3 separate regions of the Homo sapiens genome follow, and regions 1 and 2 are each linked to region 3. Evidence: fine-mapped expression QTL. A gene starts in region 3. Each other region holds a variant in brackets. All regions are shown on one strand. Distances are between the middles of the regions.

Region 1 (10,254 bases), 35 kb after region 3:
AAAAAGACAGGTGTGAGCAGCTTCAGAGAAAAAAGAGGTGCTGAAGCACCTAAGGACTAGTGAGCTGTGGGGATCCGTGATCACCTCTGGGTGTGAAAAGTGAGTGGGGGAAACCATTACTAACACCACGGGTGAGACAGGCCACGCAGCAGGAGCTGTGCCTCACGGCCAGGCCAGGCCAGGTGGGAAGGCTCTTCCTCGCTCACCTGACCCTGCCGCACTTTGGTCAAATCCAAGAGGAGGGAGAGGACATGCTTAGCGGGTGTGGCTCAGAGGGGAGCCCAGACAGAGAAGGGCAAACGGAGAATGACCAGCACAGGCTGCAGAGGCCATCTGGTGCGGAGGGAGAGGAGACGGCCTAAGCCAAGGTAGGGCGGTGTGAAGCCTCTGGGCGTTCCTTGGTACTGGAGGACACGGTGCTAGAAAGCAAGGGGAAACTGATGCGCTAGAGAGGCCGGGGCTGCAGAGGGCCTTGGGGGCTGCCAGCAGAAGCTCAGACCCCATCCTGCGGGGGTTGCCCACCAACGGCAGGGCACCTGGCCAGGAGGCTGCTGCACAGAGAGCTGAAAGCTAAAGCCAAAAGGCAATTCAAGCGGATGAACTTCGGGCACAGAGTGGGAAATATTTTTGGCTGGTGGTGTCCTTCCAAAGGCCTCTGAATCCCACCACATCCAGAAGGCCTTTTGTTGATGAGGGTCAGAAATCCAATGAAACTAGCATTGGCCAAAATAGTTATTGCTTCATGGAACTTGGAAGGCCAGGGCAAAGCTGGTTTCAGGGACTCCGGAAATGCAGGAGATAGCAGCATGAATTTCTCTTTCCATCTCTGTCTCTTTCACTCTTTAACTCGACTTGTCACACACCTTGCTGTAGGACGGGGGAAGGGAGAGGCCACAGCTTCCTCATCGCAGTTTAGTGACCCCAAAGGAAAGAGAAAAATTGCTTTTTTTTTTTAAACACCCATCTATAAAGACCCAGAGGAGCACTCTAGTCCAGCTCAAGTCACAGGTCCACTGTAGACCAACCATTTCAGCTTGTTAAAGCAAATGAAATATGGCCTGAGAAGGACTCCGTACTTTTATATTTGAGTCCTTGTGGACGAACCGTAACCTAGCTTAATAGGCACGCAAAATTGAAAACCTAACTTAGTAGTATGCACTTGTAACAATAGCTGAGTGTTGGCCAATCCCAGCGGCCATACTTCAACCACTCATAGACTGCTGAGTGTTCAAACTGTTCAAATACGGCAAACGCCGAGCTGCAACCAATCTCACTGTTTCTGTACCTCACTTCTGATTCCTGTATGTCACTTTAGTTTAGTTTTTTTTTTTTTTTTTTTTTGGAGACCAAGTCTCTCTTTGTTACCCAGGCTGGAATGCAGTGGCACAATCTCAGCTCACTACAACCTCTGCCTCCCAGGTTCAAGTGATTCTCCTGCCTCAGCCTCCTGAGTAGCTTGGATTATAGGTACCCGCCACCACGCCTGGCTAATTTTTGTATTTTTAGTAGAGACAGGGTTTCACCATGTTGGCCAGGCTGGTCTCGAACTCCTGACCTCAAGCCATCTACCTGCCTTGGCCTCCCAAATTGCTAGGATTACAGAAGTGAGCTACTGCGCCAGGCCACTTTACTTTGTCTATAAATTTGTTCTGACCCCGGGAGTCTCTCTGAATCTGTTGATTCTAGAGGCTGCCTGATTCATGAATTCTCTTTTTCTTTCTTTTTTTTTTTTTTTTTTGCTCGATTAAATTTAATCTAATTGAACTTGTCTTAAGCTTTCTTTTAACAAGCTCCATGATGGGCATCTCAGATTGGCCAGGCCTGGTCCACCTGCTGTGGCCTGGGGCTGGTACTGTGATTGTGAGGACCATCAGCACTGAAAGAATTGAGGATGGGCGGTTCACCTGTTCAGAAGGCGAGGGGGAGATGTCACACAGCCAAATGCAGCAGATGTCCTCCACCACGTGCATCCTGTCAGCACGCCCGCCTATGGAGGGCTCAGCCCTTTCATGCTCAGACAGGCCGGTCAGGAAGCCCCGTCACAGGGAGGCTCCAGGGTGGTGTATGGAAGGTAGTGGTCTGAATAGTGTCTGTTGAGCAAATGACAAAAATCAACCCCAGAGAAGCAGAAAACATCTAGGTGGCCCAGCCTGGTAAGTGGCAGGAGATGGTAGTAGAGCTGTCTCTGCCTGTCACCTTCAGCCTCTTCTTGCAAGCCCCTGGTGGTCCCATATTGAGGTAACAATGCCCATTCTTCTTCCAGACAGTGTAGAAACAGTGACAATGTGGTTATGGCCCCCTGGAAAGTGAGCAGTTGATGAGCTCTGCTTATGGCTGCTCTCCTCCATGGCAGAATGCATTCCTGCAGGATGAGGTCATGGAGCCAAGGAAGGTCAGGGTGTGGGGGGGCTTCCTGGGTCAGAGCTCCAGAGCAGTGCTGCTCCCCCTGCCCTCCTCCTTAGGTCTCCCATCACTGGTGGTCTCAGAAATCTCTGAAGATTTCAGAAATCTTGAATCCCTTCCCTGGTGTGAATGCAAAGGGAAGAGTCTGTTCCTGTAAAGTAGTTTGCAGATTGGTGGAACTGAGAGAACCCAGACCCTTCCCCGTTTCCCTCGACCTTTCCATCTCTGGACCCCATGCAGACTATGCTTGGGTGGTGACACAGAAGAATTTAGTGTTTGGTGGACCCGTTTCTGGAAGTGATGGATGCTGACAGCTGGCACTTAACAGTTATCAAAAATAACATTAACTGGAGTAGGCTCTGTGCCACTTAGAGCTTAATGACTCACTGACTTCACCCCAAATCCCCATGAACTAGCATTATTATTAGCCCTATGTTGCAGGTGAGGAGACTAAGGCTCATCCAGTTAGAACATGATGGCTGAAACCTACATTCAAACTCTGGTCTGTTTGAATCTAGAACTCTTAGCTTCCCCCCAGCGACTGTGTTAGAACAGAGGAATCATCAGTTCAATTTTCACCTCCCTCCTAAGCCTTCGTGGCTCTAGACGTATGGTTATAAAGGTTGTTCACTGCTCAAGGGCCCAGGAGGGTTTGGGGCTGGTGGATAGGGGCCAAAATACAGCCCAGGGGTGCCATTTTTCTAATTCTCACCAAGGCCCTATACTGACTAGCAGCGGCTCTACCCGATACCATCCAGGGCCTTTTCAGAATTCTGAAGGCACCCACGGTGCTGGCTACTCACACACCTGGCCCCCCTTAACCATGGCTGCCTTGCACTGTGACCCAATTGGTTCCCATGACAAAACCTGTTATTCCCATAACTCACCCAACACTTTTTTGCCCCTAGGCTCTTGCTCCTTTGGTTCCCTCTGCCTGGAATGGCCTTCTCTCCCGAGCCGCCTCGCCTGGTTCTATTAGGTTGATGCAAAAGTCATCGCGGTTTTAATGGTAAAAACCGTGATGACTTTTGCACCGACCTAGTATTTCACAAAACCTACATTTCCTTTAAAACCCAACCTGATGCCTACTCCTTCAAAATGCCTTTCATATCCCACAGTTCGACTTCATCTCACTCTGCCTCCTCTCACAGGGCTTTGTGTTCGTGCTGGATGGAGCCCATCATACTCAGCCTCGCAATAAAGGCCACCTATCTAGTGAGTGAGCATTTACTAGGCGCAGGACTCTGGGCTAAACGCTGTCCATACTTCATCTCCTTGATTCTTCACGTCACAGATGTCATTATGCCCATTTCACAGAGGAAGAAACTGAGGCTTGGAGGACTTAAAGCCTTGTTTCAGCAGGAAACGGAATAAGGCGTTCTGATTTTCAAGCTGTCTCCTATTAGGGCTGGTTTCCCCTAGATGTCATGAGTAGGTGTGAAGTGTGAGCTACTTGAAGGCAGAAGCCAGGGGGGTCCCCCGCAATCCCGGAGGCGGGCTTCTGAAAATGTTTAGCCCAGGAAGGAGGGCTGCCCTGGCCCGCAGCTTTCCGCCCCTTCCCAGGTGAGCTGCAACTCCAAAGCTCCCAAGCAGGCCCTTCACCCACGCGGGCCCCAGCAGCTCCTTGGGAAACAGGATCGCTGCTCTGAGGCCGCCCACAGAGAGACCCTCGGAGGGCGCCACGCAAGCGAAGGGCAGAAACGACTCGGGGGGCAGGGGCAGGGCGCTCCAACCACACCCAGGCGCCGCCAGCTTGTTTACGCCTCTCCGCCGCGTCCCCCCGCCCGCCAGTCACGTGACCGCCCGCCCCGCCCCCTCGGGCTCTCGCGTGGCTCCTCCCGCCGCGCCGGCCCTTCTTTTTGCCTCCTTCGCGGAGTCACAAGATCTCTTCGCAGCCTCCTTTCGGATCCTTCCGCCCGGCCCCGCCCCCCTCCATAAAAACCCTCCTTACTTTTTTTCTCGTCCAACCCACATCGTCAGTTATGAGTGGAAGAGCCTCTTCCTTCCGGCGGGGCTGCCGAGCGCGGCCGTCTATCCTTCCTTTCGAGAAGGAGGGGAGGTCCGGAGGGGGACTCTTTTTCGTGGCGGAGGCCGCCGTCGGCCTTGGCCCTTTCACGACGGGGGAGGTGCTGTACGTCCAAGATGGCGGCGCCCTGTAGGCTGGAGGGACTGTGAGGTAAACAGCTGAGGGGGAGGAGACGGTGGGTGAGTATGGGGGTGTCTCCCCCTCCTTTTTATGGGGGCTTCCTGGGGCAGCCCCGGCACCATGACTCCAGCCGGGGAGGCTCGGAGGGGCTGGAGCAAGAGACTCACTTGCTTGGTAGGGATCCCGGGGAAGGGGGGTTCGGAGAGCTCTCCCCTCCCTCTTATTACACGCTATCTCCGGCTGGCCCGGCCGGGACTGGCGGGTCCCTGGGGAGGAGAGGCGAGCCGGACGGAGCACTTCGCCCCTCCTTGGCCCCCGAGGGGACGGCTGCACCCTGGGCCTCGGTCCCTCGGGCAGGGGCGAGGTGGGCCCCTTCGTCAGTCCCTCACTTGGTGGGGTGACAGGTT[C/T]ACGCTAGGTGCGGAGGGCAGGGTAGAGACGCTTGGCGGGAGGGGAAGGGTCGCGAGGGTGGGGCTGGTCCCAGAACTTAAAGAGAGGGGTCGGGGTATAGGGGCGTGGAGAATGAATGGAGGTCGCCTGTGGGGATCAAGGACTCGCCTGGATTCGGTGTCTCCGCTGAAATTTGCATGACTCGCTCTGGGTGTACTTGTGGGTGTTTAATTGGTGGTGAAAGACAGTTACCTTAAAGTGGGCAAAGGGGATTCCTAAGAGACAGCTATTTGCAGAGCCCCTCCTAGGCGTTCATTCATTCATTTGAGGAACTGGAGGATGAAGAGCCTGCAATCGGAGGGACCTTGTAGAATTAAAGCTCTTTCTTTGTGTTTCCTGTTAAAGAGTTTTGCTTTGTGTGTTTTGGATGTGTGGTGAGGACTTGGGAGGGGACGCGGTCCTCCTAAGAACAACAGCTAACGTTAATGGAGTGCTCTCTGTGTGCCAGGCACTGTGAAAGTGCTTGGCAGTCATTATCTCCTTTGGTCCTCACGACAAAGAGAAGAGGCAGCCACTGTTAACACCTCCAATCTTCTCAAATGAAGAAACTGAGGCCCGGAGAGAGCAGGGTACTTTGCCTAAGTTCACACCCCAATTGTATCTGAGCCAGGACTGGAACTGCTGGGATCTGACTGACTCCAAAGATATGACTCTTAAATTTATCTGTTATTTGATCAAAGCTGGCCTGTAAGTGATTAAAATTTATCATTTAGCCAAGGTTTATGCACGTGTGTCTGTTTAATGTTGAAGTGGGGGGATGCACTTGGCTTATCCGCCTTAGCTTTTGTTTGGGATGGCAGTGTTGTGCATGTGAACTTGTTAGTCTAAATTAGGCTAAAAAGTATTTGATAGTTTAATAAAACTGATGAGTTTACTGAAGAAAGAAGTCCTGCTAAAATCCTTGCTGGCTTTTTTTTTTTTTTAAATAGAAAGCATACAAATAACACTTCACGTTGCATAGAGTAAGCTATAAAAGTGCTAAAATAGAATAATACTCTTCTGAGATACTTTGATTTATAATTTTGGGATCAACTTGGAGTCATCTGAATTCAAACAGGCCGGCAAAGTGGAGCTGTAAATTTCAGGAAGCATTATAAAACCTAATCTTTGGGGAGCCTTTGATTTACCGAGCAACCACCTGTGATTCTTAAATTGAACATTCCTGAGTAAATCTGGAATATGCAAATGTGAAAACTGATTTAGGGTTGTGTAGGGAAATGCACCTTTAACAGTCATGCATCAGGCAAATGAGGCTCCTCAGAAACAGTGAAACATTCTTTGCTATTGCCCTAGGGAGCTGCAGAATCTTCCTCTAACCACCTGGTGTAAACTTAAGGGGTATTTATAGAAGATGTAAACGGAAAATATCCTCTTACTAAAGTTAATATCTTATCCAAAACACTCTTATATCACGTGCCTAGAAGGGCAGATGATGTAAACTTTCTCTGCTGCATGCATTTCCTGGTGTCATAAACACTTGGTACGTTCCTAAATTCCTGGTTAGAAAGCAGGTGGCTACCAGCCTTCTTGTTTCCATAAAATTAGAGTGCTTCAGGTCCTGTGACTCAGTTGTCCTCTTCCTCACTGGGTTAAGAGTAAAAACTGATACTGCTACTGTTGTGGTGTAATATGATGCCTTCTGTGCATGCCTGGTTTCATTCGTGAGATGAAACTTAACAGTCTTACTAGGGCAAATCTAATATATACCTCTATATGTAATGTTTGCAGAATAATGAACTTGGTGGAAACGAGATCTGAAACCCTAGTGCTCATGAGAACCTTGATGTACAGATATTTGGCACTATACTAGGTAGACCTACATATTCGGACACCTTGTATATATATTTTGGAAGAAGACTGATTCTTATGTGCACCGGAGGTTGAGGACCACTGGCTTCAAGTATCATTCTGGCTATTTTCATTTATTATTTATCACAGAGGTATTTCTTAAAATAGCTTGTAGCCTTTTATTTGTGTAGTGGTGGGTGAATTTTGGGCTCTGAATTAGAGCTGACTTGTTCTTATAGCTCTGTCTTCATTTGAAGTTTGTTTGGCTACAGGTATGTTTATTTCTGGGTTCCAGGGCCATAGTGAACTAAAATTAGCTTTTCCTGGAATTAATTGGATATTCTTGAATGCCGATGAGCCAAATATAGCAATATCTCAACCATTTCAGGCTTTTCTAGAGAGTCAGATAGCTTTTGACCTTCAGTGGGTCACTTAAGTTCTGTGAGCCTGTGTCTTCATCTGTGAAGTAAAAGTTGGAATGTAAATTAATGAGTATTTCTAGGCCTACATTTCTGTGATTTAAAGTCCTTTGGGGTGTCATTTAAATATTCTGACTAAATCGATTGAGTCAACCTGTTAATGGTTTTATAAAAACCAAGCAAATTGGTGACTTTGAGCCTACCCTGTTGGGTGAAGATCTGTTTATCATTTATCCTTTCCTTTACATCATAATACTCTTTGAAAAGGTAATTCCCTATAAGTTTCCCATATTATAAATCTCTGAAAGGTTAGTCTTTGCATTGGTTTTGTCATTTAAGTAGCTGAAGGCGTGAAAGAAAAGTGTACTTAATAGCGTTAAAATCTGTGGCTGTTTGCTTGAAATGTGTATATGTAGTATACACTCAAACACTGAGTTTGTTTTTTTTAATCTCAGATCATGAATTGGTAACTAATATAATTTGGGTAGCATGAAATACTCATTCTCCATTTAAATTCATCTGAAAGAGGTAAACTGTCAGCAGTTTGAGATTATTCTTTCTCTGGTTTACTTTTTAAGACTGTAGTTGCTAGAAATTAGTAACTTTATGTCTGTTTTCATGGGAGAGAATAAAAATGCAAATTTTATATACTGTGTATAAAATACACTGTCTCAGGACCTTGTCAGTTTCTTCTTGTCCTTTCTCTCGTTCAGTGCTAACTTTTATTATGAACATGGAATCAGCAAAAGATAACAATACTTTTTACGGTTGAATGAATTCAGATTTACATCTAATAAGTAAAATGTCTTAAAAACCATGCTTTAGTCCAAAATAAAGCATAGTAGTTACTGCCCTACAACTCACAGGTCACTCTCTTAAGTAAATATGATGGCAGTAGAGGCCCAGAAGTGTTGGAGTAACAAAGGACAGTTTTGCCCTTCTGTGGGTGATGTGATGGAAGACACAGAGGGGAGCTGTAGGAAGAACAGAGGCAGTGACCTTAATGTCTGCAATCATTAAGACTCTGCTACTTTGAGTAGTTCACAGAGCATAGTAACAAACTTGAACTGTATCCATTTTAAGTTATACAATGGTTGTATCAATGTTTCAAATACCAGTTGTTAAATGGATAGACTGCTAAGCATTATGTACCCAGCAATCCATTTTTGTGAAGTAGTAATATTGTTATAATAAAGTTTATATTTTTTGAGTACTCATGTGCCAAACACTGTGGTATTTTACATGTCTGATACCCCATTAACTTCTTACAGCCTTAAGAGGCAGGATAGGAAGAGGAAGCAGGCTTAGAGTAAGTTGCCTATAGTCACTTATTCAGTGGCTAAGCTGGGATATGAACCTTTTTGGTTGACTCCACAGCCCAAACATTTAGTCTTCCACTGTGATAAACTGCTTCATCTGCTGACCTCATAAATTAACTCACAGGTCAGGTCAGTGGTTCTTAACTTTGGTGGTGGTGGGAAGGTGTGTGGACTCAGTTGCCCTCTGAAAATCTGTGGGAAGCTATGGACCAAATTTCTCTTCTACCCTTTATGTCCCATCATCACCAAAAAAATTCATACAGACATGGGATTTTGGATATGGCTTCAGGTAATTTATGGACGCAGCTTGAAACCCAGCTGATCATTTTAGATAGATTACTGCTCTAAAAATGGACTTAGGCTTTATTAAAAAACTTTTTTTTTTTTTTAACTAGTAGTCAGGAAAGGCCCAAGTCAGAAGGTGGCCTTATGTACTGTCTGGGTTATAAATTACTTTGTTAAATTTCTGTAGTGTACCCAGGTATGTAACCTGCTACGTGCTTGTCAGGCTTGGCATTCGGTCTGTGCTGGTACCTTTAGCACCTGGCAGAATTCCACTGGGCCTTTTCCCCAAGGTTTATGCACTCTATATATTTTTTTCCTTTTGAACCTCAAAGGAGGTATATTAATGAATGAATGTTTTTTACCTTCATCCTTCTTTTTCCTAGACCAGTGGTTCTGAACCTTTAGTGGACGTCAGAATTACCTAGAAGGCCCCACCCCCAAAGTATCCAATTCCGAGATCTAGTGAAAGGCCTGAGAATTTACATTTCTAACAAATACCCAGGCTCCTGCTCGTGGTGCCAGGACCACATTTTGAGAACCACTGCCCTAGACTATCAAACTATACCCTTCTTCCCTAGAATACTTCTATTTTGGTCCTATAAACCTGAAACCTAAAGATATCTCACAGTTTGCTTGTATCTCTTTTAGGAGAAGCTCTGCGTAGTGTCTTTTTGAAATATACATGGTATCTGTTTGGCCTGTATTATCTTAGTAAATAATGTTGTTCATGTTAATAGAAAGTCAAAACGTAAGCATTATTTATTGAAGAGATACGCCTTACCAAAATTAAGCTCTGGCCTTACACTTAAGTTACTAGAAGATTCTTCACCTTTGGGATAGGCTATAAGCTTTAGCAAACCATCCATCAAGGCCCCTGATGGCAGAAATTCTGAATGGAGAATCTGGCAAGTTGGAGCTCTCCTGCCCCAGTTTGTCCTTGAGAGGGACTCCAACTACTAAGACCTATTCAATCACACATGACTACACATGTTGGCAGGTTTTACCATCAGCTGTTTTACTCTCACATAGTAAGTAGTTATTTCCTACCCTTTTTTCCTTCCTTCTAGGCACTGATAGGAAGAGAGAATGGGAGCAAGTATCTTACCCTTTTTAGATGCATTTGTGCTGAAGGCGTCTTGGTTCACTTGATAGAATATTACCCTAAGAAGTCACCTGAGAGTTCCTGAGCCAGAGCGGAACATTAACTTAACAGTGTAACATTTCTGCTCTATCTAACTGTACCTGATAATAAAATAGTCTATCCATGCCTGGACCTGTGTCTGAATTGTCCTTGAATTTTTATGGATAAAAAATTGAATATAGGAAACAAGTTATAGTGAAGAGACATCTGCCTTCATTTACACATGCAGTACATTTTTACATCATAGACAAATGTGTACAAAATTATCTTAGGCAAATTGATATGCGGTCACCTATTTTATGTTAC
Region 2 (10,254 bases), 220 kb after region 3:
ATTGCTTTCTTGATTTCTTTTTCCACCAGTTTATTCTTGGTGTATAGAAATGCTACTAATTTTTTGTATGTTAATTTTGTCTTTTGCAACTTTATTAAATGTGTTTATCAGTTCAAAGAGTTTTTTGGTAGAGCATTTTAGGGTTTCCTATATGCAAAATCATGCTATCTGCAAACAGGGATAATTTGACTTCCTCCTTTCCAATTTGGATGACCTTTATTTCTTTTTTGTGTCTAATTGCTCTGGCAAGGACTTACAGTAATGTATTGAATAAGAGCGATGAGAGTGGGCATACTTGTTTTATTCCAGTTATTAGAGGAAAAGCTTTCAACTTTTTCCTATTCAGTATAAAGTTAGATATCGGTTTGCCATATATATGAGCTTTATTGTGTTAAGGTATATACTCCTTCTATACATTGTTCGTTGAGGGTTTTGTTGTTGTTGTTTTGCTTGTTTATTTTAGAGACAGGGTCTCATCTTGCTATGTTGGCCATGCTGGTCTTGAACTCCAGGGCTCAAGTGATCCTCCCACCTCAGCCTCCCGAGTAGCTGGGGCTACAGGTGTGCACCACTGTCCCCAGCTTGTTAAGGGTTTTTATCAAGAAGGGATGTTGAATTTTATCAAATGATTTTTCTGCATCTATTAAGATGATCGTGTGGTTTCTGTCTTTCATTCTGTTGGTGTGATCTATTGCATTTATTGATTTGCATATATCGAACCATCTTTGCATCCCTGAGATGCACCACATGATTATGGTGAATTCTCTTTTTTTTTTTTTTTTTTTTTTGAAATGGAGTCTCGCTCTGTTGCCCAGGCTGGAATGCAGTGGCATGATCTTGGCTCACTACAACCTCCGCCCCCTGGGCTCAAGCAACTCTCCCGCCTCAGCCTCCCGAGTAGCTGGGACTACAAGTGCGTGCCACCACGCCCAGCTAATTTTTTGCATTTTAGTAGAGATGCGGTTTCACCGTGTTGCCCAGGCTGGTCTCAAACTCCTGAACTCAGGCAATCTGCCCGCCTTGGCCTCCCAAAGTGCTGGGATTACAGACGTGAGCCACCACGCCCAGCTGGTGAATGATCTTTTTAATGTGCTGCTGGATTCAGTTTGTTAGTATTTTGTCGAGGATTTTTGCTTCTGTGTCCATCAAGGATGTTGGCCTATAGTTTTCTTTTTTTGCTGTATCTTTGTCTGGCCTTGGTATTAGAGTAATGCTGGCCTCATAGAATGCATTTGGATGAATTACCTCCTCTTCTATTTTGTAGAAAAGTTTGAGAAGAAATGGTATTAGGTTGGTGCAAAAGGAATTGTGGTTTTGGCCATTACTATCAGTTAGCTCTTCTTTAAATGTCTGGTAGAATTCAGCAGTGAAGCCATCAAGTCCTGGGCTTTTCTGTGATGGGAGACTTTTTATTACTGATTCAATCTTGTCACTCATAATTGGTTTGTTCAGTTTTACTATTTCTTCTGATTCTATCTTGGTAGGTTGTATGTGTCCAGGAATTTATTCATTTCTGTTAGATTTTCCAGTTTGTTGGTGCATAGTTGTTCATAATAGTCTCTAATGAGCCTTTGTATATCTGTGGTACCAGTTGTAATGTGTCCTTTTTTGTTGCTGATTTATTTGGGTCTTTTCTGTTTTTTTCTTGTTAATCAAGCTAATTGATTTTGTTAAAAACTGACTTAATTTTGTTGATCTTTGTATTTTTCTTTTAGTTTTATTTCTGCCCTGATCTTGTTTTTTTGTTTTTTGTTTTTGTTTTTGTGTTTTTGAGACAGAGTCTTGCTCTGTTGTCCAGGCTGGAGTGCAGTGGTGTGATCTCAGCTCACTGCAACGTCTACCTCCCAGGCTCAAGTGATTGTCCCACCACAGCCTCCTGAGTAGCTAGGACTATAGGTGCACACCAACACACCCAGATAATTTTTTAAATTATTTTTTAGTAGAGACAGGGTTTCACCATGTTGCCTAGGCTGGTCTTAAACTTTTGGACTCAAGCAACCCACCCACCTTGGCCTCCCAAAATGCTAGGACAGGATTGCAGGCATGAGCCATTGCTCCTAGCCTGCTCTGATCTTTATTATTTATTTTCTTGTACTCATGTGGGGTTGGGTTAGTTTTTGCTTTTCTAGTTCCTTGAAATGCATCATTAGGTTATTTGAAATCTTCCTACTTTTTTTGATGTTGGTGTTTATCACTATAAACTTCCCTTTTAATACTGCATTTGCTGTACCCTGTAGGCTTTGGGATTGTTAAAAGAAAAACTTTAGACAAATTAAATTCAGCAGACTTTAATTAAGCAAAGAACAATTCATGAATTGGGCAGCCCCCCAAACCAGAACAGGCTCAGAATGACACCAGCGCTGCCAAGTGGGTGGAGTGGATTTGTAGACAGAAAAAGGAAAATGATGTGACATACAGAAGATGGAAACGAGGTACAAAAACAACTGGATTGATTATAGCTTGGCATTTGCCTTATTTGAATACGGTTTGAACAGTTGGCTGCCTTAGTTGGCCAAAACTTGGTGATAGGTACAAAAATAAGTTACAGTCTGTTTACGCATCTAGTTAGATTACAGCTTACTGTGTATAAAGCAACCTTTAGGCCAAACTTAAAATATGTAAGATGGCAGCCTTAGGCTAAACTTAATTGAAGAGTGTGTGTTTCTATTTTCCTTTGTTTCAAGAAATTTTTTAATTTCCTCCTTAATTTCTTCATTGACCCATTGGTCATTCAGGAGCATGTTGTTTAATCTGCATGTATTTGTACAGTTTCAAAAGTTCCTCTTGTTATTGATTTCTAGTTTTATGCCATTGTGGTCACAAAAGGTACTTGATATGATATCAATTCTTTAAAATTTGTTGTGACTTTCCCCCAAAAGCAAGGCACACTCCAGCGGTAGCTCCAGCTTCAAGATGGTGTCATACAGCAGCCGGCTGGCCACAGTGGCAGGGTACTGTGTCACCTCCTTCTCTAGGGGAGCACAGCTGTGTAGATACTAGACAGCTCTCTGCATGGGCATAGGGCCTGTGAGGACCCCAGTGGTGAGCAGGTGTCCAAAGGGTGGTGGGAGCTGCTGGAATCCTCTTTTCTACCTTTTCGCTGTAGGAAGACGTTCCTCCTGGTTCCTGGCTGACTCTGGCTGGAGGATGGGCAGTGGAGTCCTGTTGTTTCCTTCCTTTTTCTTTTCTTTTTCTTTTTCTTTTGAGATAGAGTCTCGCTCTGTCACCCAGGCTGGAGTGCAGTGGCACAATCTCAGCTCATGCAAACTTCGCCTCCTGGGTGCAAGTAGCTGGAATTACAGACATGCACCACCACCCCTGACTAATTTTTGTATTTTTAGTAGAGACAGGGTTTCTCCATATTGGCCAGGCTGGTCTGGAACTCCTGACCTCAGGTGATCCGCCCGCCTCAGCCTCCCAAAGTGCTGGGATTGTTTCCTTCCGTTTTCTATGTGGCTATCCAGAGTTTCTTTGCTCACCAGGGTTTCTGTTACTCCTTTGATGAACTCCAGGACTCACTCCTGTATTTATTTTCATTTAAATATAGTTGTTTATTCACTGTTTGGCCGTCTTTGTGGAAGGGAGAGCTGACTAGAGGCCTCTAGCTAGTCATCTTCCTGGGGTCACTCCAACATCATCTACTTTGATTTTTTAATTGAAAGGAGTCACACATTGAAGGAACATAAATGGTATTCAGTGAAAAATAAATCTCAAAAGAAGAACAGTTGAAAATTAATGATCTAAGCCGCTGACCTAGGTTAAAAAATTACTAAACTCAAAGAGTAGCTGGAGAGAGAACAGAAACCAATGGAATAGTTAACAGAGCTTGGGTAGAGCAAAAGTGGATTCCTTGGCAAAATTAATAAACCGACAAATCTCTAGCAATATTGATCAATTAAAAA[AG/G]AAAGAATGGCCAGGCGCAGTGGCTCATTCCTGTAATCCTAGCACTTTGGGAGGCCAAGGTGGGCAGATCACTTATGGCCAGGAGTTCGAGACCAGCCTGGCCAACATGGTAAAACCCCATTTCTACTAAAAATACAAAAATTAGCCAGGTATGGTGGCATGCAGCTGTAGTCTCAGCTACTCGGGAGGCTGAGACACAAGAATTGCTTGAACTGGGGAGGTGAAGGTTGCAGTGAGCTGAGATTGCACCACTGCACTCCAGCCTGAGCTACAGAACAAGACTCTGTCTCTAAAGAAAACAAAAGAGAGAGAGAGAGGAAGAAAAGAAAAGAAGAAAGAAAGAGAGAGAGAGGGAGAGAGAGAGAAGGAGGGAGGGAGGGAAGAAGAGAAAAAGGGAGGAAGAAAGAAAGGAAAGAAAGAACAGATTGACATATTTGAAATGAAAAAGAGGATGAAACACATTTTGATAATAAATATAGTAACATAAATATAACAGATTACAAGGATAGGAAAAATATTACAAACAACTTTATGGCAATACATTTGGAAACATAGATAAAACAGATACATTCATAGGAAAAAAAATCTTATGAATAGTGACATAAGAAGAAATAGAGGCCAGGTGCAGCGGCTCATGCTTGTAATCCCAGCACTTTGGGAAGCTGAGGTGGGCAGATACGTGAAGCCAGGAGTTTGAGACCAGACTTGCCAACATGGCGAAACCCTGTCTCTACTAAAAATACCAAAATTAGCCGAGCATGGTGGCACATGCCTCTAATCCCAGCTACTCGAGTGGCTGAGGCATGAGAATTGCTTGAACCCGGGAGGCAGAGGTGGCAGCCAAGATTGTGCCACTGCACTCCAGCCTGGGTGACTGAGTGAGACCCTGTCTCAAAAAAAAAAAAAAAGAAAAGAAAAGAAAAGAAAAAAGAAATAGAAAATCCAAAGTCCCATAACTATTAAATAAATTGAATAATAAAAATGAATTGTTCCCCTCCCTTAAACACTAGGCCCAGATGCCTTTTACAGGTGAAATCTACCACAGTATTCAAGGAATTGATTATTCCCATTGTGAACAAACTCTTTTCAGAAAACAGAAAAAGAAAAAGAGGGAACACATCACAATACATTTCATAAGATTAATAAAGTCTTAATGTGAAACCCAAAGATAATATAAATAAGAAAAATTACAGGCCAATGTTATTCGTAAATATAGTTGCCACAATCCTAAACAAAATATTAGCAAATCCAATCCAATTGTGTATTAGGGTATTCAAGGATGATTCAACTTTAGAAAAGCTATTACTTGAATTCACAATAATAAGAAATTAAAGAAAAAGAGATATAGCTATTTCAATAGATGAAGACAAAGCATTGGATAAAATTAAATATCTATTCATGATTTTAAAATTCTTAGCTATAAACTGAAGGGAATTTCCTTAACCTGATAAAAGATACCTTCCCAAACTATAGCAACCATAGGTCTTAGTGGTGAAATGTTAGAAGCATGCCCTTTAAAATCAAGCATAAGACAAGGATTCCCCCATCATCATTTCTATGAAACATTATTAAACAGTGCAGTAAAGACAAGAAAAGTAAATAAAACCTCTAGGACTTGGGATGGAAGGACCAAAAGTCATTATTGGCAGGTGTTATGATTATCTACATTAAGAAAGCCCCAAAGAATTTATGGAGTACATAATAGTTTTAGTGAGAGTTTAGCAAGGTTACCAACTAAAAGATCAATAATTAAAGATCCAAAGATTATTTACACTTTCTTTGGCAACAGAGAGTTGGAAAATGTAAAACTAAGATAATAATCAACAACAATGGCCAGGCACAGCAGCTTGAGCCTGTAATCTCAGCTACTGGGAGACTGAGGTGGGAGGATCACTTAAACCCAGGAGTCAGGGCTGCAGTGAGCTATAATCATTCCACTGCACTGCAGCCTGGGCAACACAGCAAGACCCCATCTCCAAAAAAAAAAAAATTAACAACGTATAGCAGAAGAAAAGTGTACACTGAAATAAACACAATGAAAGATGTATAAGCCCTTTATTGGAAAAACTGTGTAAGTTTATTAAAAGGCATGTAAGAATCCCTAAGAGGGAGGCAATGTCTCGTTCATGGTTAGGGACGCTAATATTATAAAGATGTCACCCCTTCCCAAATTGATCATAGATCCAGTGGAATCAGAATTAAAATTCCAAATTGTTGGTAGTGGTTCTTTTTGATGCAACTTGCTGTGCTCATTCTGCATTTACATAGAAGAGCAAAGAGTTAAAAATTTATCAAGTTATTCCCGAAGAAAGACAAAGTGGGAGGACTTGCCCTCTCAAATATCTATTTATTTTAAAACCATTAGGACATTGAGGTGTTAGCACTAAATTAGATCTACTAACCAGTGACACAGAACACAGAGCCCGGAAACACTCACACTTGATAATGACAGGGGTGGCACCACGGATCAGGGGGAAGAGATGGACTTTCCAATAAATGATGCTGCGCAACTGGGTACCCATGTGGGAAAAAATTACCTTCGACAGCTACTTGCCCCATATATGTAACAATCAATTCCAGGTAGTTTAAAAGCTTAAATGTGAAAGACAAAACTGTAAAACCTTGTAGAAGAACATATACGAAACTATCTTATGATCTTGGGATACAGAAGTCTTCCTAAAATAAGACCCAAAGAGCGTAAACAACAAAAGAAAATAAATAAATTTGACTACATTAAAATTGAGAACTTTTATTCAGCCAAAGGCATTCATCTGAAGAATGAAAAGACTCAATCTGGGATAGGCTAGTTGCAACCAAAACAGAGTTAGTATCCAGAATTTATAAAGAGCTCCTATAAATGAATGAGATAAAGTATGCTTAATATAAAAATGGGCAGAAAAATCAGGAACAGATCATAGAATTCTGGGAGTGTGCTAAAACCTGTGGAATTGTACATTTCTATTTTTTTTTTTTTTTTTTTTTGAGACCAGGTCTCACTGTGTCCCTCAGGCTGGAGTGCAGTGGCGTGATCACAGCTCATTGCAGCCTCGACCTCCCAGGTTCAAGCAGTCCTCCCACCTTGGCCTCCGTAATAGCTGGGACTACAACACACCACCACACCAGGCTAATTTTTGTATTTTTTTGTAGAGACAGGGTTTTGCCGTTTTGCCAAGCCTGGTCTTGAACTCTGGGGCTCAAGCGATCCTCCCACCTCAGCCTCCCAAAGTCCTGGGATTACAGGCATGCGCTGTCATGCCCGGCTGGAACTGTACACTGTAAATAAGTGAATTTTATGGTGTGTGAATTATATCTCAGTAAGGCTGTTTTGTTTTATTTTTTTAAGACGTGAACATGGATTTCACAAAAGAAAAAACACAAGGGCCAAAAAACAGAAAAAGTTGCTAAACCTCATTAGAAAATGGAAAATGCGGTGGCTCATGCCTGTAATCCCCACACTTTGGGAAGCTGAGGCAGGCGGATCACTTGAGCTCAGGAGTTAGAGACCAGACTAGGCAACATGGCGAAAAACCATCTCTACTAAAAATGCAGAAAAAAAAAAAATTAGCCAGGCCTGGTGGCACAGGCCTGTAATCCCAGCTACCTGGGAAGCTGAGGCAAGAGAATCATTTGAACCAGGGAAGCAGAGGTTGCAGTGAGCCGAGATCGCACCATTGCACTCCAGCCTGGGTGACAGAGCCAGACCCTGTCTCAAAAAACATAAACAAACAAACAAAAAAAAAGAAAATGGAAAATACGAATTTAAATCATAATGGTACATTGTTTTGTTCCTGCCAGCTTGTCAAACATTAAGTCTGTCCAAACCAAGTACTGATGAGGATATGGATGAGTAGGAAGCCCTGCTGAAGAGCATTTAGACTTTTTTCTTTCTTTCCCTTTGCAAATGGTTCTGTAATAAACATGCCGTATGTGTGGCTCCGCGTATTCGTGTGACTGTTTCTCCAGATTAAAAGCCTGGAAGGGAACTGTAGTTGCACTTCTGTTTTCAATGGGTGCCACCAAAGTGCCCAAGAGCTCATAATTCTACTGGTGGCAATAAAGAATTGGATGACTGAAAGTGATGGATGCTTTGGAAATGACGGAAACGTCCAAGAAACAAAGGCTTCATCTAAGCTGGGTGATGCCACATGGCAGACCATGAGGACATCAGGACAGCGATGTGAGGGACAGCCCCCAGAGCCATCAAAACTGCAGCCCTGCCCAAGTTAGTGGCCCAGTTCAGTGGAATTGCCCTCCTCGTGCTCAAGCTGTGGAAGTGTTTATCATCATGAAACTTAAGGTTTAGGGACCTTTTTTTTCCCTCCCTTAGGATCAATGATGGATTTAAAATATCCCTAAATGTTTTCTTTCAGGAATGGCTATATTACCCACGGCAGTTCTATTTTGATAGACAGATAGAGTATTTCAGTAATGACAGTTATTTCCATTTTTAGTGTTTCGGGGGGCTGGCCACAAGAGGGAACAGAAGGGGCAAAGGCCTGGAAACAGGAACCAGATCCACCTCTGCGGTTGCCGCCTTTCGGAGCCTCAGTTTCTTCACTTGCAAAGTGGAATTAGCAGTCCACATTGTGTGAAGTTGCTGTGAGGGTCAGTCAGGTAGTGCATACAGGTAAATGTGAGGGAGTAATAAATTGTAGCAGTTTTGTTCCAGGCTCGATATTCTTTCTGTATTTCCCATACAGGATGGGATTAACCAGTAGGCCCCCAGGCATAGCCCGGATTGTTCTATAAGAGAGTGGGTACTGCTCATCAGAGGAAAAAAATGGCCTCTTTTTCTCCTTGTCTTCTTCACCTGCCGTGAGATGGCGGGCCCTCCTTCCCCAGAGGCCAGCGGGTTGGACACGGCCTCGTTGGTGCAGTGAGGGTGACGGGGGGAGCCCATCCTAGCCTTGTCCTGCTCCGGAACCCTCTGACCATCCCGGTGAGCTGTGGAAGCTTCTCTCCCGCTAACGGTGGGAATCACCAGGTCCCCGTGGCAGCTTCTGGATTGAAATGTCAGTCACTCTGGCTGCCCCTGGACACACGCATTCCGTTGTCATCTGTCGGGTGCCCACGGCAACTGCTGCGGTGTAATAGAGACAAATGTAGCACCAAACTGGAATGCGATGATTCCGAAATTATGTATTTAATTCACAACTGATATAGAGTGCTCATAAAATCTTGATCATGATAGAGAGGCAATAAACATTTGAGAACATAAATATTTGGGGGGGAAATGGCTTTGTGAAACATTTAGTTGTGGAGTAGTTAGAAGAACAGAGAAAATCAGCCAGGCAGAACTCTCTAGACACGAGTCCGTGAGTTATAGATGTAGGGCTGATAATGACCTTGAGTGAGTCGTTTTATGGGGGTGCGGAATTCGCCTGTCTCTAAAGGGGGGATGATGACAATGGCACCTGCTCACAGGGTGTGATGAGAGATAAATTAGGTGACGTGCGTTCGGTGCTTACAGAAGCCCATTTTGAGCTTCAAAGAGTGGGACAATCCAGCGCCCTCTTGCTTGCTCAGAATCAGGTCAGTGAGATGCCGGCATTTCCCGTGAGAGGGTGCTTCAGATTCTGTTCGCACTTCGGAGTGTGGCCCCCGGCAGCTGATCGCCTCTCCCCTCACCTTGGCAAAACATAGATTTGTTATCAGTGCAGAAGGTGGTTTAAAAGGAATTTGTTACCATGAACAGTGAATTTTTAGGTATGCAAATGATCACTTAAGAAACTGCTTCGCAGGTTGCAGGCGCCCTCCCTCTGGCTCCCCGCCTGGCTTCGGAGCCAAGCTCCACACCTCAAGGTGCCTCTAGGAGAGAGTTGGGCCCGACAGCAGCTTTCCCCAGACACTGCAGAAGGCAGAATGGCTTAAACTGAGGGCCTCAAAGCTTTCTCTCTAGAACCTGGGAGCTTCTTTTTTGGGAGGAGAATTCTTTTCTATGCAAGAATGAGCTGCTGTTTTTGTACTTCCTGTGAGAGGAAAACAAAGGGAAGTGGAATTTATGTACACCAGGAAGAGTCTGGACAAAATTCTTTAGTGTCTGTAAAGGTGGCAATGGGAGGAAAGCTAAGGGCAGCTGAGGAATACACCTCATTTTAAAAAAGTCTTTGAGTCTAGGTGTGGTGGCTCATGCCTGTAATCCCAGCACTTTGAGAGGCCAAGGCAGGTGGATCACTTGAGGTCAGGAGTTTGAGACCAGCCTGGCCAACATGGTGAAACCCCGTCTCTACTAAAAATACAAAATTAGCCAGGCATGGTGGCGCATGCCTGTGATCCCAGCTACTGGGGAGGCTGAGGCAGGAGAATCACTTGAACCCAGAGGGCGAAGGTTGCAGTGAGCAGAGATCGCAC
Region 3 (10,254 bases):
AGCAGGAGGAGGACTGGGGGTGTGGGGTTCCCCTTGCACTTTGTTTTGAGGGGGCCTGTGAGGGTCATGGTTTGCCTATCAAAATATCAAAAGATGATCCTTTTTTGCGCATAATATTTATGAGGAAATCAACTAGAACCAAAGGTACTCGCCAAGGCTTCTGTGATAGAAGAGGAGCTGGTCAAACCTTCTGGCAGGGGGCTGCTTAGCCTGCCTTGTTTATTACACCTTTAATTCTGATGCTTAATCCAGATGCTGAGTCCCGCTGCTGTCCCATTTTATAAAGAAGGAGCTGAAGCCTGGAGGGCTCAGGACCCTGGGGCAGAGTGAGCAGGGAAGGACTGGGGTCTGTCTGGCCCCAGGCCTCCATGCTCTTGACTTTCAGCCCAGCAGGTGGGCAGTTACTCGGTGCAGAATGGGTGCCAAGTGCTGGGCAGTGCCCGGCATGGGCTTCTCTCTGCAGAGGGAGTGGAGCCGACGTGCTAGGGATGAAAACAGCAGTTTGAAGCTCCCTCGTGTGCCCGTGTCAAGCAGTGTCTTCCCAGGTTGCAGGTGGGAAAACTGAGGTGCAGAGAGGAAAGTGACTCAGACCCAGGGCTCCTGGCCTGTTAGGATTTTACTCTCAAGCCACTGTGCCACCCAGCACTGTCAGAGGTCCTCACAGCACCCGGTGAACACCGCCTGCAGCACAGAGGGAAATGCAGGGTGCTGGGGCAAGAGGGGAGAAAAATCAGGCCGGGTGCAGTGGCTCACACCTGTAATCCCAACATTTTGGGAGGCCGAGGCGGACGGATCACAAGATCAGGAGTTCGAGACCAGCCTAGCCAACACAGTGAAACCTCGTCTCTACAAAAAATACAAAAATTAGCCGGGCATGGTGGCACTTGCCTACAGTTCCAGCTACTCAGGAGGCTGAGGCAGGAGAATCGCTTGAACCCGGGAGGCGGAGGTTGCAGTGAGCCGAGATCACACCACCACTGCACTTCAGCCTGGGTGACAGAGCCACACTCTGTCTCAAAAAAAAAAAAAAAAAAAAAGGAGGGAGAAAAATCAAACCCTCTGACCCTCAAGTCTTTTCCAGGCTCCTAAAAGACCCACATGGCTCCTGAAGAGTCTTGGTGGGGCCAGGCCAGGGACAGACTTCCCTTCAGGAAGCATTGGTATTCTCCTGGGCTCAGGGCCTAAGGAGAACCCAGGTCAACTGACTCTAACCCTGGGCCCCACAACAAGGACACTTTCTAGCGCTCATGAGCCCTGGCCAAGCACTTTTCACTTAGGCACAGGGCAAGATGGGGCTGGCTTCTGGGGTTCTCCAGCCTCAGGAAGGTGATTCTCATGCTTCTTCTAGTGATCTCCCCTGAGCCCCACACCCGCTTTCTTGCCTCCCCCCAGTGTTCTCTCCCCTGAGCTTGGCAAGTGACAGTGACACAGCCAACGCCACGGCCAAGCCCTCTGGCTCACAGAGGGGCCAAATGCACCCGGTGAACTTCCTTTTGGCCCCTGTTAGCAGAGTTGTTTTTTTTTTAAAGAAAAAACAGGAACCAATCACCTATACTGTAGTTAATTAACAACCACTTGGTTTTGATTGACATGAACTCCGTTCTGAGAAGGAGCTAAGAGCAGAGATTATGAAAGAAGCTCAGGAATTCTTCATAAAACAGAGGACTTGATGGTATCGGACCTCCGGAAAGAGGCTCACTGTTATCACTCCATAACCCCCGATCCTGATAGAGTCCCCCTGACCCTGAGTCAGAATCTCAGTCAGTGCTTCTTGAAGACAGGCGACCCTGCACCCTGGCAGGAGCCAGCACCCTAACTTCCAGTTGGACTTGGGTCAACAGGCCTGTGATGTCCCTGTAATGAGGCCCCTTTGTTGCCCAAGGAGTTGAGTCTGATTTGGGGTCCTGGAGCTTGTGACCGCATCAGCCACCAACCTGGGGCTTGGTTTTCCTATCTCTTAAAAGGGACGGTTGGGCTAAGAGATTTCTAAACTTCCCTTTTGCTCTAAAATCCCATGTAGAATTCGTTGACCTTCAGTGAGAGATTGAACCACCTTGACTAAAAGACTTGTCACTCGGGTTCCCCTTTTGGGAGGGTTGGGTAAGACTCAGCTGGTTCTCAGGGTCAGCTACAGAGAACCTTTTTGACTTCCTTTATGTTTAAAGACTCAAGGGAGGCCGGGCGTGGTGGCTCACGCCTGTAATCCCAGCACTTTGGGAGGCCAAGGCAGGCGGATCACCTGAAGTCAGGAGTTCAAGACCAGCCTGGCCAACATGGGGAAACCCCGTCTCTACTAAAAATACAAAACTTAGCTGGGTGTGGTGGCAGGCACCTGTAATCCCAGCTACTCGGGAGGCTGAGGCTGGAGAATCACTTGAACCCAGAAGGCGGAGGTTGCGGTGAGCCCAGATGGCGCCACTGCACTCCAGCCTGGGTGACACAGCGAGACTCTGTCAAAAAAAAAAAAGATTCAAGGGGAAAACAAGACTTGTCCGTGGAGGAGTCGGGGGAAAATGAGCCCAGGTCAGGCCCAGGGGCCCCAGCAGAAAGTAATCATCATCATCATCACCATCATTATTATTATTATTTTGAGACAGAGTCTCACTCTGTCACCTGGGCTGGAGTGCAGTGGTTTGATCTTGGCCCACTGTAACCTCCACCTCCCAGGCCCAAGCGATCCTCCCATCTTAGCTTCTCGAGTAGCTGGGACTACAGGCATGCACCACCACAGTTGGCTAATTTTTGTATTTTTTGTAGAGACGGGGTTTTGCCATGTTGCCCAGGCCGGTCTAAATCATCATTTTTATTTGAAATTTAGAAGGAGTTCTCAAATGTCTCCTCCAAAGCTCAGAGAATGCAATGTCAAAAGTGAGTGAATCTACTTCTGGGTATAGACCCAAAATCATTGGAAGGGGAGACTCAAAGAGATATCTGCATACTCATGTTTATAGCAGCACTATTCACAATAGGCAAAAAGTGGAAGCAACCCAGGTTTCATGGCAGATGAATGTCCAAACAACATGTGGTCTATGGCCAGACTTAGTGGCTCACACCTGTAATCCCAGCACTGTGGGAGGCCGAGGTGGGCAGATCACCTGAGGTCAGGAGTTCCAAGACAAGCCTGGCCAAAATGGCGAAACCCCACCTCTACTAGAAATACAAAAATCAGCCAGGCATGGTGGTGGGTGCCTGTAATCCCAGCTACCCAGGAGGCTGAGGCAGGAGAATCGCTTGAACCCGGGAGGCAGAGGTTGCAGTGAGCCAAGATCGCACCATGGCACTCCAGCTTTGTGACAGAGACTCTGTCTCAAACAAACAAACAAACAAACAAAATGTGGTCTAGACATATGATTGAACATTATTCGGCCTTAAAAAGGAAGGAAATGCTGGCGCATGCTACAACATGGATGAACCTGAAGGATTTATGCTAAGTGAAATAAGCCAATCACAAAAGGACAAATACTGTGTGATTCCTTATATGAGTCCCTAAAATAGGCAATTTCATAGAGACAGAAATAGATAGAGGTTGCCAGAGGTGAGGGGAAGGGAATGGAAGTTACTGTGTAATAGGTATGAAGTTTCAGCTTTATGAGATGAAACAGTTCTGTGGATGGATGGTGGTGATGGTTGCACAGCCATGTGGGTGTACTTAATACCATTGAATGGTACGCTTGAAAATGGCTAAAACGGGAAATTTTATGTTATATGTATTTTATCAAAATAAAAAGACAAGTGAGTGAATGAAACTCTTTCTGCATATCTCTATATTATAGACTAAAGCAGCTCCCATTGGCTTGAATTCCTGGCAAGGAACACACGAAAAGCCTCCCTCTAGACTAAGAGGGGGTGGTGTTTGCTGATGTTTCAACCAAGGGTCTGGATATTGTGGCACAGACAGTGAAGAATCCCATTTGATCAGGCTGTTTTCCCTGGGTGATCTGGAGCCATCTGGTCCCAGAGCCTTTGAAAATCCTTGTACTGTCCAATAAGATTCCCACCCACCCTACCCTGCCCCGCTGAAAGCTTCGGGGCAATGGTCTGCGCTGGTTTTGAGTGATTCCATTAATCAAACCGAAACCAGGTATAGCTCTCCAATGTTCCCCAAGAACTCTCTTCAGGAAGACCAAACTCTGACAGAAAGAGCAAGGGGAATTACGCATTTTCTTGTCCAAAGAATTCCTTCTGCAATACTTCCGAGGACAAGAAACTTGACACTTTGCTAGACTTGGAAGAAATATTCTGCCTGTTGCCTACTAAGAAACATGCAGGCGCGTCCAGGCGGTCAGGTGCAGCTCAGCTGGCTTCTAATATCTACCAGACTCATGCCCACAGATTGTAATCGAATTTACTCCCTAAGAACTCGTGAAAGCTCTGGACTTTCTCCCCGGAAAAATGTACACGGGCACATACCCACGGCGATTCTGCAGACCTCCTCTTCACAAGTCCTGTTTTAGAGTGAGCATGTCTCCTCAGATGCCTCAACACTTAAACTTGGTTTTTTTTCTCCAAAAATAGGTGGAAAGGGCTAACAACAGCCACAGGGAAAGGCGAGCTGAAACAGTACCTCTCCATGGTCGGTCCTATTGTTCCTGGAGCCTGGGCAGTGTGTGGGAGAGGGCAGCCCTGTCATCTCCCCTTAGTAGGCTCTGGAGGGGAGAGCGCCTGACTCTCAAAGTGTCCTGGGAATTTGGCTGGGCGCAGTGGCTAATGCCTGTAATCCCAACACTTTGGGAGGCTGAGGCAGGTGGATCGTTTGAGGTCAAGAGTTCGAGACCAGCCTGGCCAACATGGTGAAACCCGTCTCTACTAAAAATACAAAAATTAGCCAGGCGTGGTAACACGCGCCTGTAATCCCAGCTACTTGGGAGGCTGAGGCAGGAGAATCGCTTGAATTCGGGAGGCAGAGGTTTCAGTGCAATCGCACCACTGCGCTCCAGAGTCTCACTCTGTCTCAAAAAAAAAAAAAAAAAAAAAAAAAAAAGTGTCCCAGGAACTTTAGTCAAGTCCCTAAAGTCTGGGACTGTCTCCGAGGGGGAACACAACTCAGGCACTTGGAAGTGTGTCTCCCTGAGCACTGCCCAGGTCCCCAGGACAGCTGGGTTGTGGGTATGACTTTGTGCCCGAAGGTGACGTCTGTCAGCCTAAAATCAAATTTTGAAAAGTGTTTCTGCGCAGCCGGCAAAGGCGCAATTCCTAGCACAGTGGCTCAGACGAGGCTACGTCCTCACCCTGTTTCTCCCTTGGCTCCTTGCCTTCCAGAGCTTTTCCAGCCCACCTCACCTTTCCTAGGACCGCAGGAGGAGCCAGGGAGCCTGCTGTGAAGCCACCTGCGGCGCACAGGCACATTTCAAAACAAAAGCGTAGAAACGCATCCTCCAGCACTCACCTGTCCGGAGCTGTCCCTCGCCTGGGTTCTGCCGGAGCTTCCCGAGGTGGGAACTGCAAAGCCTCTCTCGGGACTGGCCTCCACTCTGTCAACTGTGTGACTCTTTGCACAAATAGATACTTCTCCTTTTTGCTCTGTCTCTCTGTGTGTTTTTCCTCTTCTGTTCCCCTCCCTGATTTTCAATCTGATTATTTGTGTCAAAATCTGGCGGTGAACAAGCAGCCAATGAAGAGAGCGCGGGAGCTCAGCCGTATTTGCTTATCAAAACTTTCCAGGACACAAGACTTCGAATTCTCATTTCTAACCCTCGACACTTGGAGCGGCACGCTTTCTCTCTGCAGAGAAATTCAGAATTTCGCTGGAAATTTTGAATAACATCTGCACAAAAAGAAAGTGATGGCTAAATTATTAAATTTTAAAAATTAAAGTTAGAAAAAGCTCTAACTTATAAAACTCGATTTTGCATAGGGAAGTCATTGCTCTTTGGTTTTTTTCTTCTTTCTTTTCTCTTGCCTTTTTTCTTCCTTCCCTCCTTCCCTCCTTTTTCCTTCCTTCTCTTCCTCCTTTCTTTCTTCCTCCCTCCCTGCCTCCTTCCTTCCCTTCCTTATTTTCCTTCTTCCTCCCTCCTTCTTTCCTTCCCTCCCTCCCTCCTTCTCCTCCTCTCCTCTCTCTCTCTTCCCTCCTTTCCTCCCTCCTTTTTTCCCTGCCTCCCTCCTCGCTGCCTCCTCCCCTCCCTCCCTCCCCAAGTTCAGCACCCTGAGGCTTGTGAGAGCCAGGCTGGTGCAATGCCCCTAGTACCCGAGCCGGCCACATGCATAGAGGCCCCTCTTGTCCTTGCAGAGGTCATATCTCAGAAGAGACATCAAATTTGCATTTCCCCCAGATATGACCTTTGAGCGGGTAGAGGCACCCTGGAGGTGTGGCAGTGAGTTCGGAGGCCAGGAGACGCTCGGCCTGCTGAAGCTGCCATACAGATTGAAGGCCAGGTGCCAGAGCCCGTGTGTGCTGCCCTCTGGTGGCAGACAAAGTGATGGGGAGGCCAGTGGGGGCCTCTGGGGTGTCCCATTGATGCTGGGGGGAGTGAGGGCGGTAAAGCTTGGCTGAGCTGGCTGGGGCATTTCTTCCCATTTGGCAGGGCGTCCCATCCCCTGGCTCCCCACCTTCTCCCTCCTCCTCTGGCCCCCGCCTCCTCCCGCTTGCAGGATGACTGATTTATTTCAGGAGGTTTTGCATAAGATGAGAACGCCACAAACAGAGCACTGTTAGGCTGCTTTGTCTGCTCTTCCAGCCCGGGTGCTGGAGATATTATGTTTCCCTCATAAAGAAAACAAGTCTGGTGACAGGAAGCCCCAATTTAAACTGCAAGTCCAAGGTTCAAAATGAAGAAAAAGGGGTGTTTCAGGCGAGGTCTTTCTGCTGGGCCAGCCCTGGAGCACCAGCCAGGAGGACACAACCCTGTGGTCACCAGGCCTCAGTAATGCTGGGGTGTCAGTCCCAGCCCCAGGCTACAGACAGCAGACCACTGCTCCCAGCTCTGTGGTCTCTCTTGGTGGAAAGAAACATCTTTTTAAAAAATTATTATTGGCTGGGCACAGTGGTTCACGCCTGTAATCCCAGCACTTTGAGAGGCCGAGGCAGGCGAGGATCACTTGAGATCGGGAGTTCAAGACCAGCCTGACCAACATGGAGAAACCCCATCTCTACAAAAAATACAAAATTAGCTGGGTGTGGTGGCACATGCCTGTAATCTCAGCCACTTAGGAGGCTGAGGCAGGATAATTGCTTGAACCCAGAAGGCAGAGGTTGCGGTGAGTCCAGATCGCACCATTGCACTTCAGCCTGGGCAACAAGAGCAAAATTCTGTCTCAAGAAAATTATTATTATTATTATTATTTTCTTAGAGACAGGAGTTGGCTTTGTAGCCCAGACTGGAGTGCAGTGTTGCAATCATAGCTCACTGCAGCCTCGACCTCCCTGGCTCAAGAGATCCTCCTGCTTCAGCCTCTTGAGTGGCTGGGACTACAGGCGCACCACCATGCCTGGTTAATTTTTTTATTTTTTTTAGAGATGGGGTCTTGCTATGCTGTCCAGTCTGGTCTAAATCATTATTTTTATTTGAAATTTAGAAGTTCTCAAATGTCTCCTCTAAAATTCAGAGAATGCAATGTCAAAAGTGAGTGAATCTACTTCTGGGTATAGACTCAAAATCACTGGAAGCAGAATCGAAGAGATATTTGCACACTTACATTTATAGTGGTACTATTCACAATAGGCTGGTCTTGAACTCCTGGCCTCAAGCGATCCTCCTGCCTCAGCCTCCCAAAGTGCTGGGATTACAGGCACGAGCTGCTGTGCCCAGCCAGGGACACATCTTGAGTATTCTGTGGGTGTTGTACATTGCCAACAATCAGCTAGAACTGCTTGTCATTATGCAGAAAACTTAAAATATTCTCTCCAAGTCAACAAGTCCCCAGTTTCCTCATGTTCTCACTTCCCTATACACACATACACACATTTTGCTACTGTAAACCAGCGTGTCATTTTCCGTGAAACATGATTTTATGGAAGTGCTTCCTAAGTTCGTTTGCAGCCTTTATTGACATCTTTAATGGTTTCACCATTAAATCTTTAATGGTTTCATGGTTTATCTCACCAAACGCTTCCTCCACTTGTTTAGGGTGTTTTCTAATAGGAAGCGGCTGTATCAGGCACATGCAGTTCAACTGCTGTTCTAAGATTGTAATCCCACTTTAGGGTCCCTACCTTCCCCCGTGAGTAACTGACACAGGGACAGCCTTCCCAGACCCAGACCAGGGACCCAGCCTGCAGATGAAGCCACCCAGGTTCCCCTTGATGGGAGAGCAGTGGCCAGGCAGCCAGTCCCCTGGCATAGCAGTTGAAGCCAGGAGTCCCCAGCCAGCCTCACCCAGGCCCTTACAGCCCTGGACTTCCCATGCTCTGTGTCCCCTCCAGGGCTGCCTGTAAAGCTACCAGCACTTCCCTTAGTGAGCAGCCCTGGAGTCAACACCTTCATTTAGTCTCTCCCAAGAGCTAAATCGCTTCCGCATTCCCATGCCCATTCATCAGTTTATTCATTCATTTAACAGTTACCATTAGGTACCTTTCGTGTATCAGCTCTTTCCTTCCCTCCCTTATGTAACACATGTGTATCGAGTGCCCACAACAAGGCACCACATGCTGGGGTTTCAAAAAACAGCCGGACTTTTCATATTCCTTCCTGGTCTAGAGGGTAGGAAAGAGCAACCTGAAATTTACAATTTGGGGTGACAAGTGCTGTGATATAAACATAGTATACAAAAGAAGCCTGGGGCATTTGGAAATGGACCCAGGCTTGGGGGGGTTGGTGAAGGAAGTGATATCTAAGTTGATGCCTAGGCTAAGTTAGTTGGGAGAAGGAAGGTAGGGAAAAGTGTCTCAAAGAAGAACAGCATTGTGCTAAGAGCTGGAGGTCCCCTGAAGGGAGCTGACAGCAGCCAAGTTCATTAGGGAAGAAACGCAGACTGAAGGAAGGGGAGGGAAGGTTAGGACTTTTGAGAGCTGAGCCTAGAGAAAGAAAAAGAACAAAGATCAGGAAGATTCTTCCCTGGTTTAAAAACCTTCAATAATTTCCCTTTACCTTTAGGACAAAAATCTCAGCTTCAGAGATCAATACTCCGTGTTTTTCACAATGTCGGCACCCTTTCAAATAACAGCACTTTTCCAGATGCGAGTTGCAGGAAGTTTCAAAAAGATGGGGTCTTGCTCTGTAGCCCAGGCTGGTCTTGAACTCCTGGTCTCAAGCAATCCTCCCAAGCTCCTGAGTAGCTGGGATTACAGGTGCATGCCACCGTGCCCAGTACAGAAACACAATTTAAACTCATTTAATAATAACAATGAAACAATTAATTCATGTCACAGAAAATTTTCAGCTTCTGACATGGTTGGATCCAGATGCTCAAATGATACTGTCTGGAATCTCACTCATTCAGGTCATTGGCACTTCTCGTGCCCTCTGCCTGGATGGCCTAACTCTCTGATTTCCCCAAGCCTGTCTCCTTCTTGTCATCCAGGTCTTAGCGGAAATGTTACTTCTGCAGAAAGACCTCCTTGACCTTCAACTAAAGTAGGACCTCCCCACCCCAGTCACTTTCTATTCCTTCACCCACCCCTTTCTTCTTAGCATTCACACTTATCTGAAAATATCTTGCTTGTCTTCCCTTTTTTTTTTTTTTTTTTTTTTGAGACGGATTCTGGCTCTGTCGCCTAGGCTGGAGGGCAGTGGCACAATCTCGGCTCACTGCAACCTCCTTCTCCCAGGTTCAAGCGATTCTCCTGCCTCAGCCTCCCGAGTAGCTGGGATTACAGGTGCCCGCCACCAAGCCTGGCTAATTTTTTTGTGTTTTTAGTAGAGATAGAGTTTCACCATGTTGGCCAGGCTAGTCTCAAACTCCTAACCTCAAGTGATCCTTGCCTGCCTCGGCCTCCCAAAGTGCTGGGATTACAGGTGTGAGCCACCGCGCCTGGCCATCTTCCTATCTTTTAATTCATTTATTTATTGCTCTAACTTCCCACAAGGAATGTCCATGCTACAAGAGCAGGAACTGTTTTTCCAGGCACACAGCTCAGGGCTTAGACTCTCCAGGGCTTAGAACAGTGTTTGGGAGACACTAATGATATCTTCACAGAGTGAATAAATGAATGAATGAATGACTCTCTCTCCATCATCTCGGCTTTGCTTCCCTCTGTGTTGGCCTCATCCTCACGCCATGATCTCTACCCACTTTATGCGGCTCTTATCTCTGGGCCTAGGAACCCCAGTGGAAAGAGAGATTCCTCCTCAATTGTTTCAGAAAGATTGCTAGGGTTGA

The links.
Region 1: its variant is fine-mapped to the expression of GFI1B in testis (GTEx, PIP 0.94).
Region 2: its variant is fine-mapped to the expression of GFI1B in whole blood (TOPMed, PIP above 0.99).

What each region holds. Positions count from the first base shown.
Region 1 is chr9:132,938,897-132,949,150 of GRCh38, reverse strand. TSC1 (TSC complex subunit 1) reads left to right here and starts at 4,535. Exons shown (of 23, transcript NM_000368.5): 1 at 4,535-4,608. MIR548AW (microRNA 548aw) reads right to left here and starts at 3,444; the gene lies at 3,380-3,444. It also overlaps a transcript of GFI1B not described here. RefSeq lists enhancers at 3,818-3,957, 4,318-4,617, 3,930-4,663 and silencers at 4,138-4,217, 4,748-4,807, 4,868-4,927. The variant C/T (reference allele first, on the strand shown) is at 4,957.
Region 2 is chr9:132,755,827-132,766,080 of GRCh38, reverse strand. All of the region lies in intron 11 of AK8 (adenylate kinase 8), which reads left to right. Among named protein-coding and RNA genes, the nearest start is that of GTF3C4, 90 kb to the right of the region's middle. The variant AG/G (reference allele first, on the strand shown) is at 3,903.
Region 3 is chr9:132,973,974-132,984,227 of GRCh38, reverse strand. It overlaps GFI1B (growth factor independent 1B transcriptional repressor), which reads right to left and starts at 5,534. Exons shown (of 7, transcript NM_001377304.1): 1 at 5,387-5,534.